3 linked regions of the Homo sapiens genome follow. The protein of the gene in region 3 interacts with the protein of the main gene of each other region in a biochemical or structural test. Each region holds a gene or a part of one and is shown on either strand. Other genes may lie near its edges. The genes, in order: GRID2IP, DLG5 and NCBP2L.

Evidence for each region.
Region 1: the proteins of NCBP2L (region 3) and GRID2IP interact in a test that uses a peptide from one of them, tested with the Homo sapiens proteins (one large-scale study listed by IntAct).
Region 2: the proteins of NCBP2L (region 3) and DLG5 interact in a test that uses a peptide from one of them, tested with the Homo sapiens proteins (one large-scale study listed by IntAct).

Annotation. Positions count from the first base shown.
Region 1 is NC_000007.14:6,549,357-6,553,105, forward strand, and holds the start of GRID2IP (delphilin), read right to left. Parts: upstream 2,106-3,749; 5' UTR 2,081-2,105; coding exon 1,652-2,080; intron 1-1,651.
Region 2 is NC_000010.11:77,924,569-77,928,317, reverse strand, and holds the start of DLG5 (disks large homolog 5), read left to right. Parts: upstream 1-1,562; 5' UTR 1,563-1,797; coding exon 1,798-2,101; intron 2,102-3,749. UniProt on the Homo sapiens protein: Acts as a regulator of the Hippo signaling pathway.
Region 3 is NC_000023.11:107,784,085-107,787,733, reverse strand, and holds part of NCBP2L (nuclear cap-binding protein subunit 2-like), read right to left. Parts: intron 1-3,649.

The sequences.
Region 1 (3,749 bases), on a different chromosome or scaffold from region 3:
CCTTGGGTTCTTCTTGTGGCTAGAGGTCTGATCCATTCCAGGCTCCTCATTCTTAATCTTCAGGACCACGCTAATATTCCACCTGCAGTCTATCACAGCCTGGTTTGTGCCAAAGTCAAGAGGAAATGCCTTTGGCAGATTGGTGAAGCCAAACTAGGGCCTCCTGCAGCCAACAAGCCAGCCAGGCCGCTGTGCAAGGGCAGGTCTAATCCTGGTTTTGTGGGGGCTTAGAACAGGCGGAATTCTTTTACATTTTTTTGGAGGTGGGGAATGGCGGGGAGGGGAATGGAGTCTCACTCTGTCACTCAGGCTGCAGTGCAGTAGCATGATCTCAGCTCACTGCAACCTCCGTCTCCCAAGCTCAAGTAATCCTCCCACCTCAACACCCTTGAGTATCTGGCACCACAGGCGCGCGCCACCACACCTGGCTGGTTTTTTTTTTTTTTATATTTTTGATAGTGATGGGATTTCACCACATTGCCCAGGCTGGTCTCAAACTCCTGAGTTCAAGTCATCAGCCCTCCTCAGCCTCCCAAAGTGCTGGGATTACAGGCGTGAGCCACCTCACCCCACTGGCTCTTTTACACTTGATCTTAGATGAAGGGCCAAGAAGCGATATCTGTGGCTCTTTTTATTTTATCTTTTTATTTTAGAGATGCGGTCTCACTCCGTTACCCAGGCTGGAATGCAGTGGTGCAGTCATGGCTCACTGCAGCCTCAAACTCCCAGGCTGAAGCGATCTTCCTGCCTCAGTCTCCTGAGTATCTGGGACTATAAGGCATGCACCACCATGCCAAGCTAGTTTTTGATTTTTTTTGTAGAGATGGTGTCTCATTACGTTGCCCAGGCTGGCCTTGAACTCAGGGTCTCAAGTGATCCTCCCACCTTGGTCTCCTAAAATGCTAGGATTACATCTAGCACCTGGCCTGCAGTTAAGTTCTAATGGGGAGGATAGACAGAGAAAGGGGCACGTGGGAACATTCTGGTGTCAATTATTCTATAGTCTACATTATATTTTTATCTATATCCTATTATTTTATATATTGATCAAGAGGGTGGTTATTCAAGGGTGCATGTATATGGAAAATTTATTGAGCTGCACACTTAATGCACTTTACACCTATAGTACCTTAATAAAAAAGAAACACAAGTGAATAAAAATTGCAAAATTAGGCCGGGCGCAGTGGCTCATGCCTGTAATCCCAGCACTTTGGGAGGCAGAGGTGGGCAGATCACTTGAGGTCAGGAGTTTGAGACCAGACTGACCAACATGGTGAAACCCCGTCTCTACTAAAAATACCAAAAAAAAAAAAAAAAAAAAAATTAGCTGGGTGTGGTGGCAAACGCCTGTAATCTCAATTACTGGAAGACTGAGGCAGGAGAATCACTTGAACTTGGGAGGCAGAGGTTGTACTGAGCCAAGACCTGGCCACTGCACTCCAGCTTGGGTGACAGAGCGAGACTCTGTCTCAAAAAAAAAAAATGCAAAATTGTTTGCAAGGTTTTGAAGTTGAGCATTCCCATATTTCTGTTAAATCTGACCCCAGAAGTTTCCTTACCTCTGGCCCTGGGAGAGCGGCGCCCGGCCCACTCCCTGCCCACATTATGAGCCCCCTCCTTCCCGCCCCCACCTCCCACCCCCGCGCCTTACCTTGCGGCTGAACTCTTGGGCCTTGCGCCTGCGCTCTCGGTGCACCGCGTCCGGGCGCTTGCGGCCGGCCAGGCGAAGCAGCTCACGGCCCAGAGCTAGGCCGCGGCCGCACCGCGGGGCCCGCAAGACTGTGGTCGGGGCCGCGGGGCCGGATCCTGGGCCGGGGCCACCGTCGGGAGCCGGGAGCACGCCCAGACTGGGCGGCACACGTGGGCAGCGCCGTGCCAGGCGCACGAGGCGCTCGCGGCTCAGACCGCCCACCGCCAGCCCCTCCACCTCCAGGATCTGGTCTCCTGGCCGCAGTCCTCCGGCATGCGCGCTGCTCCCCTTGGCCACCTCCAGGACGAAGCAGGGGCCAGAGCCACCTAGCCGGAAGCCAAAGTCCTCTGGCCAGCCCTGGTTCGTGGCCGGCGTGGCAGTGGTGGCCATGCACCTAGAACTGGAGACAGAACAGGGATTTCCTTGCTGCTCTGTCCATGGCTCCAAAGCCACTCAAAGGCCCAGGGCCACTGAAGGCCTCTACTTATCTCTGCCTCCTCCCTCTGACTCCGTCTTTGTCTCAATTCCCTTCCATCTATGTTTTTTTGTTTTGTTTTGTTTTTGTTTTTTTAAGACAGAGTTTCGCTCTTGTTGCCCAGGCTGGAGTGCAATGGCGTGATCTCAGCTCACCGCAACCTCCGCTTACTGGGTTCAAATGATTCTCCTGCCTCAGCCTCCTGAGAAGCTGGGATTACAGGCATGTGCCACCAAGCCTGGCTAATTTTGTATTTTTAGTAGAGACGGGGTTTCTCCATGTTGGTCAGGCTGGTCTCGAACTCCTGACCTTAGGTGATCTGCCTGCCTTGGCCTCCCAAAATGCTGGGATTACAGGCGTGAGCCACCGTGCCTGGCTTGCCTAATTGTTGTATTTTTAGTAGAGACAGGGTTTCACTATGTTACCCAGGCTGGTCTTGAACTCCTGGCCTCAGGTGATCTGCCTGCTTGGCCTCTCAAAGTGCTAGGATTACAGGCATGAACCATCATGCCTGGCTTGTTTTTTTGTTTTTTGTTTGTTTGTTTGTTTGTTTTTACTAAAAACAAAATTGGGGAGGGGGTGTAAAAGAAAAATGGCCCTTCCTTAAAGTCTTCTTTTGAGTGCCTTGGATTTTTAACCAATGCGGCCACATCCTTTTCCATGGGCCCCTCCTGCTTCCACAGGTCTGTTTTACTGTCTTACATGTACACTTGGCTTCCATGGGCCCTCCTCACTCCCTACACTTTAATCCCTCTTCTTACCCCTCTCCATCTACCAAAATTCCCTTTCGGGATCTGGCATGAATCACAAACTTACGGAAGTCCAGAATGTTGGAGCAGAATGGTCCCTCAGAGACCATTCATATCTTTGGGCATTTATTTTATTTTATTTTATTTTTGAGACAGAGTCTTGTTCTGTCACCCAGGCTGGAGTGCAGTGGTGTGATCTCGGCTCACTGCAACCTCTGACTCCTGGGTTCAAGCGATTCTCCTGCCTCAGCCTCCCGAATAGCTGGGATTACAGGTGTCCACCACCATGCGCGGCTACTTTTTGTATTTTTAGTAGAGACAGGGTTTCACCATATTGGCCAGGCTGGTCTCCAACTCCTGACCTCAGGTGATCCACCTGCCTTGGCCTCCCAAAGTGCTGTGATTACAGGCGTGAGCCACCGTGCCCAGCCTCTTGGGCTTTATTTTTTAGAGGCAAAGTCTCACTCTGTCACCCAGTCTGGAATGCAGGAACACCATCATATCTCACTGCAGCCTTGACCTTCCAAGCTGAAGTCATCCTCCTGCCTCAGCCTCCTGAGTAGCTGGGATCACAGGCGCATACTACCATGCCCAGCTAATTAAAAAAAAATTTTTATAGAAATGGGGTCTCACTATGTTGCCCAGACAGGTCTCAAACTTCTGGGCTCAAGCGATCCTCCTTCTTCAGCCTCCCAAAGTGCTGGGATTACACATGTGAGCCACTGCACCCAGCCTGGGGGAGACTTTAGAAACCTCCTCAGAGGCCGGGTGCGGTGGCTCACGCCTGTAATCCCAGCACTTTGCGAGGCAGAGGCGGGCGGCTCACGAGGTCAGG
Region 2 (3,749 bases), on a different chromosome or scaffold from region 3:
AAAATATATAAATGTTCACAAAAAAGTTGAGATCATGTCAAAAGCTTCATTGACATCCTTGAGCTTATTCATGAAGCCAAGGCTAAGAACCCCTGATCTAATATTCTCCCTCCACCATTTTTCCTAAGGACAAAACAGATCAGCAAGGATTATTGGTTTGTTCCACCTTGTGCAGCTGCTTAGAGGGGAGTCCAAGTCCAAAGTGCAAATTCTGATACTCTTGTTCTTTCTACCATATAGTGAGTTCGTTTCCATAAATAAAAACGACTTCTCCCCTTGAAGAAGCAGACTAAGAAGACACTGCTTTTTGAGGGAAGGGAGGAGGCATGTGGCTGGGACTGGCAGTGTGGGTAGACAAAGTGCCTCTCACCCCCAGCGAGATCCACTCATTCCAACGTAGATATTTGAAATGGACCTGGGTTCCCACTCTACAGAGGAGCACTGCGGGATCACTGAGCGCAGTCAGAGTTCCAGCTTTGAAGGACCTTGTCCTGCAGTCAGGGAGGTAAGCAGTATGTGTCCACAAACGGCTGTCGTGGAAGAGAAGACATTCTTGGGCTTTAAGGGGGACTGCAGATCCTTTCCAAGTCATCAAAGGAAGCAAGGTAGTCCGCTGATTTGTCTCCCTCTGAGACATTTAGGGGGAGAGCGCCTCACTTGCCAGAAAGACCAAGGACTGCACCGCAGACACCCACCTTTCTTTTCCTCATCCGGCGACACATCCTTCCTCCTGCCAACATCCTAACTCCTTTACACTCTGGGGACCAGCTCTTCTCAAATGCTGGCGCGGGGAACAGCCTATTTACCGCAGTTGAGGCGATTTTACTGGGAAATTCTCTTAGGAGCTCCTTGGAGAGGGAAAGCCTCACGGATTCGGCGGAGGTCTTAATCTGGAGATGTCCAAATTTAGGGGAAACCCTCCCCACCATTTGTCTCCAGGCTGTATTTTGGAGTTCTCAGATTAGGACCCTCTGGACTGGGGGCAAGATTTGTATGAGGGGGTCTCCAGCAGCTTGTGGGCTGGCCGCGTGCCAGGCCTGACTCCGTGTCCCCCACCCCCGGCTGCGCCTGGGCCTCGGGGGACCGGGAACCAGCCGGCGCCGCGTCCCCGCCTAGCGGGCGGGCCGGGGACCCCTCCCCTCCGCCCGTCCCCTCCTCCCCTGCTGCCGCCTCCCGGAGGGACGGCCTGGGGAGGGGAGAGAGGAGGGACGGGCCGGCGGCGGCGGGGCTGTGGCCACGGGGGAGCGGGTGGCGGCCGCGGGGCCCCGGTGAGCCGGGCCGGGGTGCACGGGGGCCGAGGCGGCCTCCGAGCCGGGCCGGAGCTGTCGGGAGCCTGGGAAACACGGCCCAGGCGACTTTCTCCCGGGAGTTGTAGTCTTGCTCTGGGGGCGGCGCGCGGCCCGGCTTTCGGGGCGAGTTTTCTCGCGGGGCGGGCGGCGCGCGCGGAGGCTGAGGGGGAGGGGGAGCATGCCCGGCTGGAGCCCGGCCTCGGGGCGCGCCCCGGCCGCCGTCCCCACCTCCGCCTCCTCCTTCTCCTCCTCCGTCTCCTCCTCCTCCTCTTCCAGTCCCGCCGCCGCGGCAGCCAACATGGCTGCGCTCCGGAGCCCGGGAGGCGGCCGCTGCTGAGCGCCGCCCGCCGCCCCGGGCCCCCAGCCCGCCCAGGCCCCGGCCCATGGCTCCCGCCGCCTCACGGCTCCCGGCGCCCTAGGGCTGCTGCCGAGGTGCTCGCCTGCCCGCCCGCCGGCCTCGGGGGGCCCGGGAGGCGTCCGGCGGGGCGGGGCGGCGCGGCCCGCCACCATGGAGCCCCAGCGCCGGGAGCTGCTCGCCCAGTGTCAGCAGAGCCTGGCCCAGGCCATGACGGAGGTGGAAGCCGTGCTCGGGCTGCTCGAGGCCGCGGGAGCGCTCAGTCCCGGCGAGCGGCGGCAGCTGGACGAGGAGGCGGGAGGCGCCAAGGCGGAGCTGCTGCTCAAGCTGCTCTTGGCCAAGGAGCGGGACCACTTCCAGGACCTGCGGGCGGCGCTGGAGAAGACGCAGCCTCACCTGCTGCCCATTCTCTACCTGAACGGCGTCGTCGGGCCGCCGCAGCCCGCCGAAGGCGCGGGTGAGTGGCAGACCCTTGGCCCCCGCCTCTGGGACGCGCCCTCCGCTTCTCCCTCCTGCTGGCCGAGGGTACCTCGCCGGGGCCGCCGCTCCACCTGGCGATGGCCTCGGTGGACTCGCTCCTCTGGCCCAGTTGGGGAGGCGGCGGTGCGCGGATCCCGAAGTCCCGCCGCCTCCCCCAGTCCCGCCGTTCGCTGTGAACAATGCCCCCCGCTGAAGGCCTTCACTCTCAGGTGCCTCGACGACAGGGTCCCCGGGGGCCACCAGGTCCAGTAGCGGGTAGGGGGTACCTCGGAGGATGTCCATCAGTCCCTTTTCTGAGGCTCCTCACCGTCCGCTAGCTTTGGCACCCTGTGCTAGCCTTTAACCAAGGGTACCGTCCAGAAGAATGGGACTTGGGCCAGGACCCCTACTCTTAAGTTTTGGTCGCTGCCATCCTGTGCCGGGGCCACAACTGCTTTTTCATTTTCTGGCTGTCCCAGCTCCTTTTTCTCTGCTCAGAGCCCAGTCTCTCCCAGACTGGTGGCTGATTGTGCACAACGCCTGCCTGGGTTTCTTTGGAAACTGGGCCCGGAAAAGTTGGGGAAGTTGCATTGCACCATGGGAAAATCCTAGTAGTGGCTGCTGGGGCTAAGTTCTCTCCCTGAGAGCACAGAGCTGCTTAACGAGGAAGGCTGGTGACTGGTTCCCTTGAGGGTGCCTTTTGGAACCCCTGTGTCTTTGGTCTTGGGGATGACTGATTTGTAAGTGTGTGTCTGGGTGCAGGAACGGATACTGGCGGGAGTTTCTGACAAGTGGTAGGCTTGTCCTGGCCTGGCCGTGGAGTGTGGAAGCCAGCCTTTTTAGACAAGGCAGCTGGAGGAAGAAGACATGGCACTGAGGGAGGAGGAGAACTAGCATTTATTGGGCATCTACTGTTGTGGCAGGCGCTCTGCTTTATCACGTTCAGTTGTCGTTGCCACTATGTGAGCTTTCTGTTATTCTTTGCCAGAGAGAAAACTCTGGCTTGGAGTGGTTAAAATGCTCAGAAAGTATTGGGCACCAGGAATTTTGAATTATAACCTATTGTTTGATTTAACTTGTTCAGAGCCAGGAAACAAAGTGCCATCTTTCTAGGTCTTGTCCCTGTTTTAACAGTGAATCGATAGGTACAGTAAAAATAAATAAGGATATATGTATAAAAGAAAAACAAGTGAACCGAGAGGGCTGAGAAACTGCCCTTAGCAACCTGAAGGTCAAAGGCTGATGGGACCCATTTATTTGGCTGTTAAAAGCCCCACTTATTAAGGGAATGATTTTATAAGGCATTCCTGGTAACAGCTCTCTTACGTTGGCCATCTTAACCTCAATTTTTGTAGCTGCAGGAAACTGACAGAGAGACTAAATTGCTGGCCACACAGCAGGTCATTTCATTGGTGGCCCTCCCGTCTCCACTTTGAGCTTCTGACTTGCATCTCTGTCCCTCAAACCTGCATTCTTTCCCCCCAGTTGTGGTCATGTCAGAGTTACTGGGCAAACCTAGTCCTTTCCTGGGATAGTGCTTTGGGAGATGCTAGGAAGGGACTGTCAGATGTGGCCATGAGGATAAGGACAGAGGGGATCTCAACAAAGTAATTTTTTTCTTTTTAATTGTATCTATGTATCTATCT
Region 3 (3,649 bases):
ATAAGACTGTTCCTAATGGGTGAGAGAGCTGAGAGCCATTGTTGAGGACTGGAACCCTGTGGCCAAATATCTACTTTGTGCCAAGAGAAATTCATGTCTGATTGAGACTGCCTAGTGCTCAGAGTGACAGAAGATGTTCATATGTATTTAACACCTGTATTTAAATGAGTAGTTAAACATAAACATGTCATGGAGGTGAGAGATGAGAAATTACTTAATGGGTACAATCTACACTGTTTGGGTGACGGTTACATTAAAAGCCCAGACTTCACCACTCTGCAATATATCCATGTACCAAAACTGCACTCGAACCCCTTAAATTTGTACAAATAAATAAATAAACAAACATAAGCTGAAACAGACTGGCAGAACTAAAGCGGAGACAATGGCCTGAGACAGGCTACAGGAGAAAAGAGGATAATAAGTGACTGTTTAGTGTAGAAGCTGATCTGGATTAAATTAGGAAGCAGGTGTTAATGGATGCTTGAATTTTTTTGTTTATCATTTGCACTATATGGCCTTACTGTTCAAAGTGTTGTCCGTGGGCCAGCAGGAGCAGCACACCTGGGAGCTTTTTAGAAATGCAGGATCTCAGGCCCCTCCCTAGATCTGCTGAATAATAATCTTCATTTTAACGAGTTTCAGGTGATTTGAGTGCACAGTACAGTTTGAGAAGCACTGACGTATGTGGTTTCTTAGTTGAACTTTTGCCTAACAAAATTCTCTGTCCCTTCCTCCTTCCTTCTCTCCCTTGTACCACCTCTCCTAGTTTCCCAATCTTAGTTTCCTTGTGATCTGGCACATAACTCTAATCATGGCTGATAGCCCCAAAAGTAGTGTTCCCAATATATCCAGATAAAGAAAAGAAAAGAAAAGAGTGGTCAGATATATATTGTAAAGCACAGGTTTGGGCAGTAGGAAACCATTGACTTGGCCTCTAATTGTGCTGTCTGTATAACTTTTGTCAAGTTCCTTGACCCTTCTGAGCCTCAGTCTGTAAAATAAGGGTCATTATAGTATTTACCTCATAGTGTTGTTGTGAGAATGAAATGAAATGAGGGGAAGGTATGTAAACTGCCTAACACAGCGCCTGACACACAGTAAGTGCTCAGTATGTGGTAGTCATTATTATTGAAAGCCATCAGTTCTGAAGTAAACTTAGAACTATGTTATGATTCCAGACTTTCAAAGTCCCCATGAGTCTTTCTGGAGAGCCTCCGGAAAGCCCTGTGTACCTCATCCAGTTCAGCTTTCTTGACTCCAGTACCAGCAGTCAAGCAAAAGTATTTCTTATTCCCTTGGATTGTCTTCTTGTTTTTGCTGAATTACCAAGATTTCCTACTTTGTCATTGCAAATGGCCCACATTTTTAGTACATTAAAGCTAAAAACATCTTTTGTGGGCTGGTCTGGAAATGTAGTTCAATTTATAACAATTTTTTTCTCCTATGGAAAAATGCATGTCACCTTCCAAACAATTGACTTGAGAGTGAACTTTGAGAGCTCAGCCTGTCTGCAGCTTGGAGGCTCCCTGTATGTCAATATATGGAGTGGTCACAAAGGCTAGGTAAACCAAGTCCAGAATTCCAGAGGTGGCTGAAAGACAATTGACAATGCTACAAGGAGTGGAAAGTAGGGCAAATGGATCAATCTGCGTGCACAGTATCAAGATTTAGAAAGCTAATACAGGAAGGGAGATATACCTCTGGAAGGATATTAAAAAATAGCCACAATGACAACACAAACCATTTTTTTTTTTACTATATTAGGTCAGGGGCCCCTAATCGGTAGCTTGGGATCTACAAACAATATCAAGGCCTTGCAAGCTAACTCTCCAACATGATCGCCCTTCTCCTGCCCTGCTCTCTGCAGTTTACCTGGATTCTCAGCTCAGAGAGGAAGACAGTAAGCAGCATCTCCCCAATCCTCTTCACTCCCACACCCTGGTAGCCAGCCCCCAGATTCAGTAAACTTCCCTCTACCTTTAATTTCCGTCTTCCCAGGGAGATCAAGGCATCAGGAATATACAACACAGTTTTTCCTTACAAAAAGGATGAGGACTCCTGTATTGGGTAAAATAAGATGACTGGTGAAAACAGGGCCCCCAGGATGGAGAGGGCTGGAAAGACAGTAAGAAAGGACCATGAAAAAGCAAAGGACTTTTGTGCCTTCTCCCTGAAGTTGTTAGCAAGAAAACCAATTGTATCTGGGGGAACTCTGGGTTAACATGGCAGCAAGATAACACAGTCTGATACCCACCATCTAGGAATGCCCATTAAAATATCCATGAAGCTTTGCAACAAAAAACTAAAACTTGCACTAGCTACGGAAAATAGGGGAAAAGGGACTGTTAATTGCTAATGGAGAAGGAATTTCTGCTAGCTGTTGTAGGGAGATGGGGTTGGACTGAGGAACATATTTATAATCTACATACACTCTACCCTCCTATCCAGAACAGCAAAAGTGCCCAACAAAGTTGGGGAAAGATTTTGATTCACTTCTACCAACTGTCCTTAGATTGGAAATACAGAGGCTCATCAGAAAACCAATGTCATCCCTTTACTATAAAGAAAATATTTTCAGAGGCAACAACAGCTCTGTTCCACTTCTTCTACCATCAATTCCTCTATTTTATTTTTTTCTCTTTCTTTCTTTCTCCTTCCTTCCTTCCTTTCTTTCTTTCCTTCTTTCTTTCTTTCCTTCCTTCCTTCCTTCCTTCCTTCTTTCTTTCCTTCCTTCTTTCTTTTGTTTGTTTTTGAGACAAGGTCTCATTCTGTGGCCCAGGCTGGAGTGCAGTGGCACAATCACAGCTCACTACAGCCTCAACCTCCCAGGCTCAAGCAATCTTCCCACCTCAGCCTCCTGAGTAGCTGAAACCACAGGTGCATGCCACCACACCTGGCTATTTTTTTTTTTTTTTTTTTTTTTGTGGAGATGGGGTTTTGCCATGTTGCCCAGGCTGGTCTTGAACTCCTGAGCTTAAGTGATCCACCCGCCTCAGCTTCCCAAAGTGTTGGAATTACAGGCGTGAGCCACCGCATCTGCCCAGCTCCTCTATTTCCTATATGCTTTGTGGAGACCACAACTTGAGAACACCATGTGGCTGGTGATGGTGGTAGCGGTGGTTGGGGCCAGAGATTGTTATGGTTGGGGCCAGAGATTGTTATCGGGAAAAGTTCTGAACATAAGCATGCTTGCAGACATTATATCTGAAAAAATGTAATGTGTAACATGTAATTTCATATTACATATATAAATATGTAATATGTAATTTCATGTAATATGAAATAATGTAACATGTAACAAATTGCAGAGTTGAATGACCCAAAAGATCAGAGATGGAAGATTCCATCTATCTCAGTCCAGCCAAACCTAAAAATAATGATAGCAGCAACAATAACACTATCAACTGCCACCAGTTGCTGGGCAATTATTATATGCCAGACACTATATTAAGTACTTAACATGTCATGCATTATCTTACATACTCCTCATAGTAAACATAACTTGCCATTCAAGTTTGTTTGAAAAGGTCAGGTAACAATAATGACATCTACCACATATTGAGTTGTGACTATGTGGTAGGTACCAAGTGTTATACATCCACCATCTCATTAGATGAATGCCTACTAGGCACTAAAAATGGGCTTG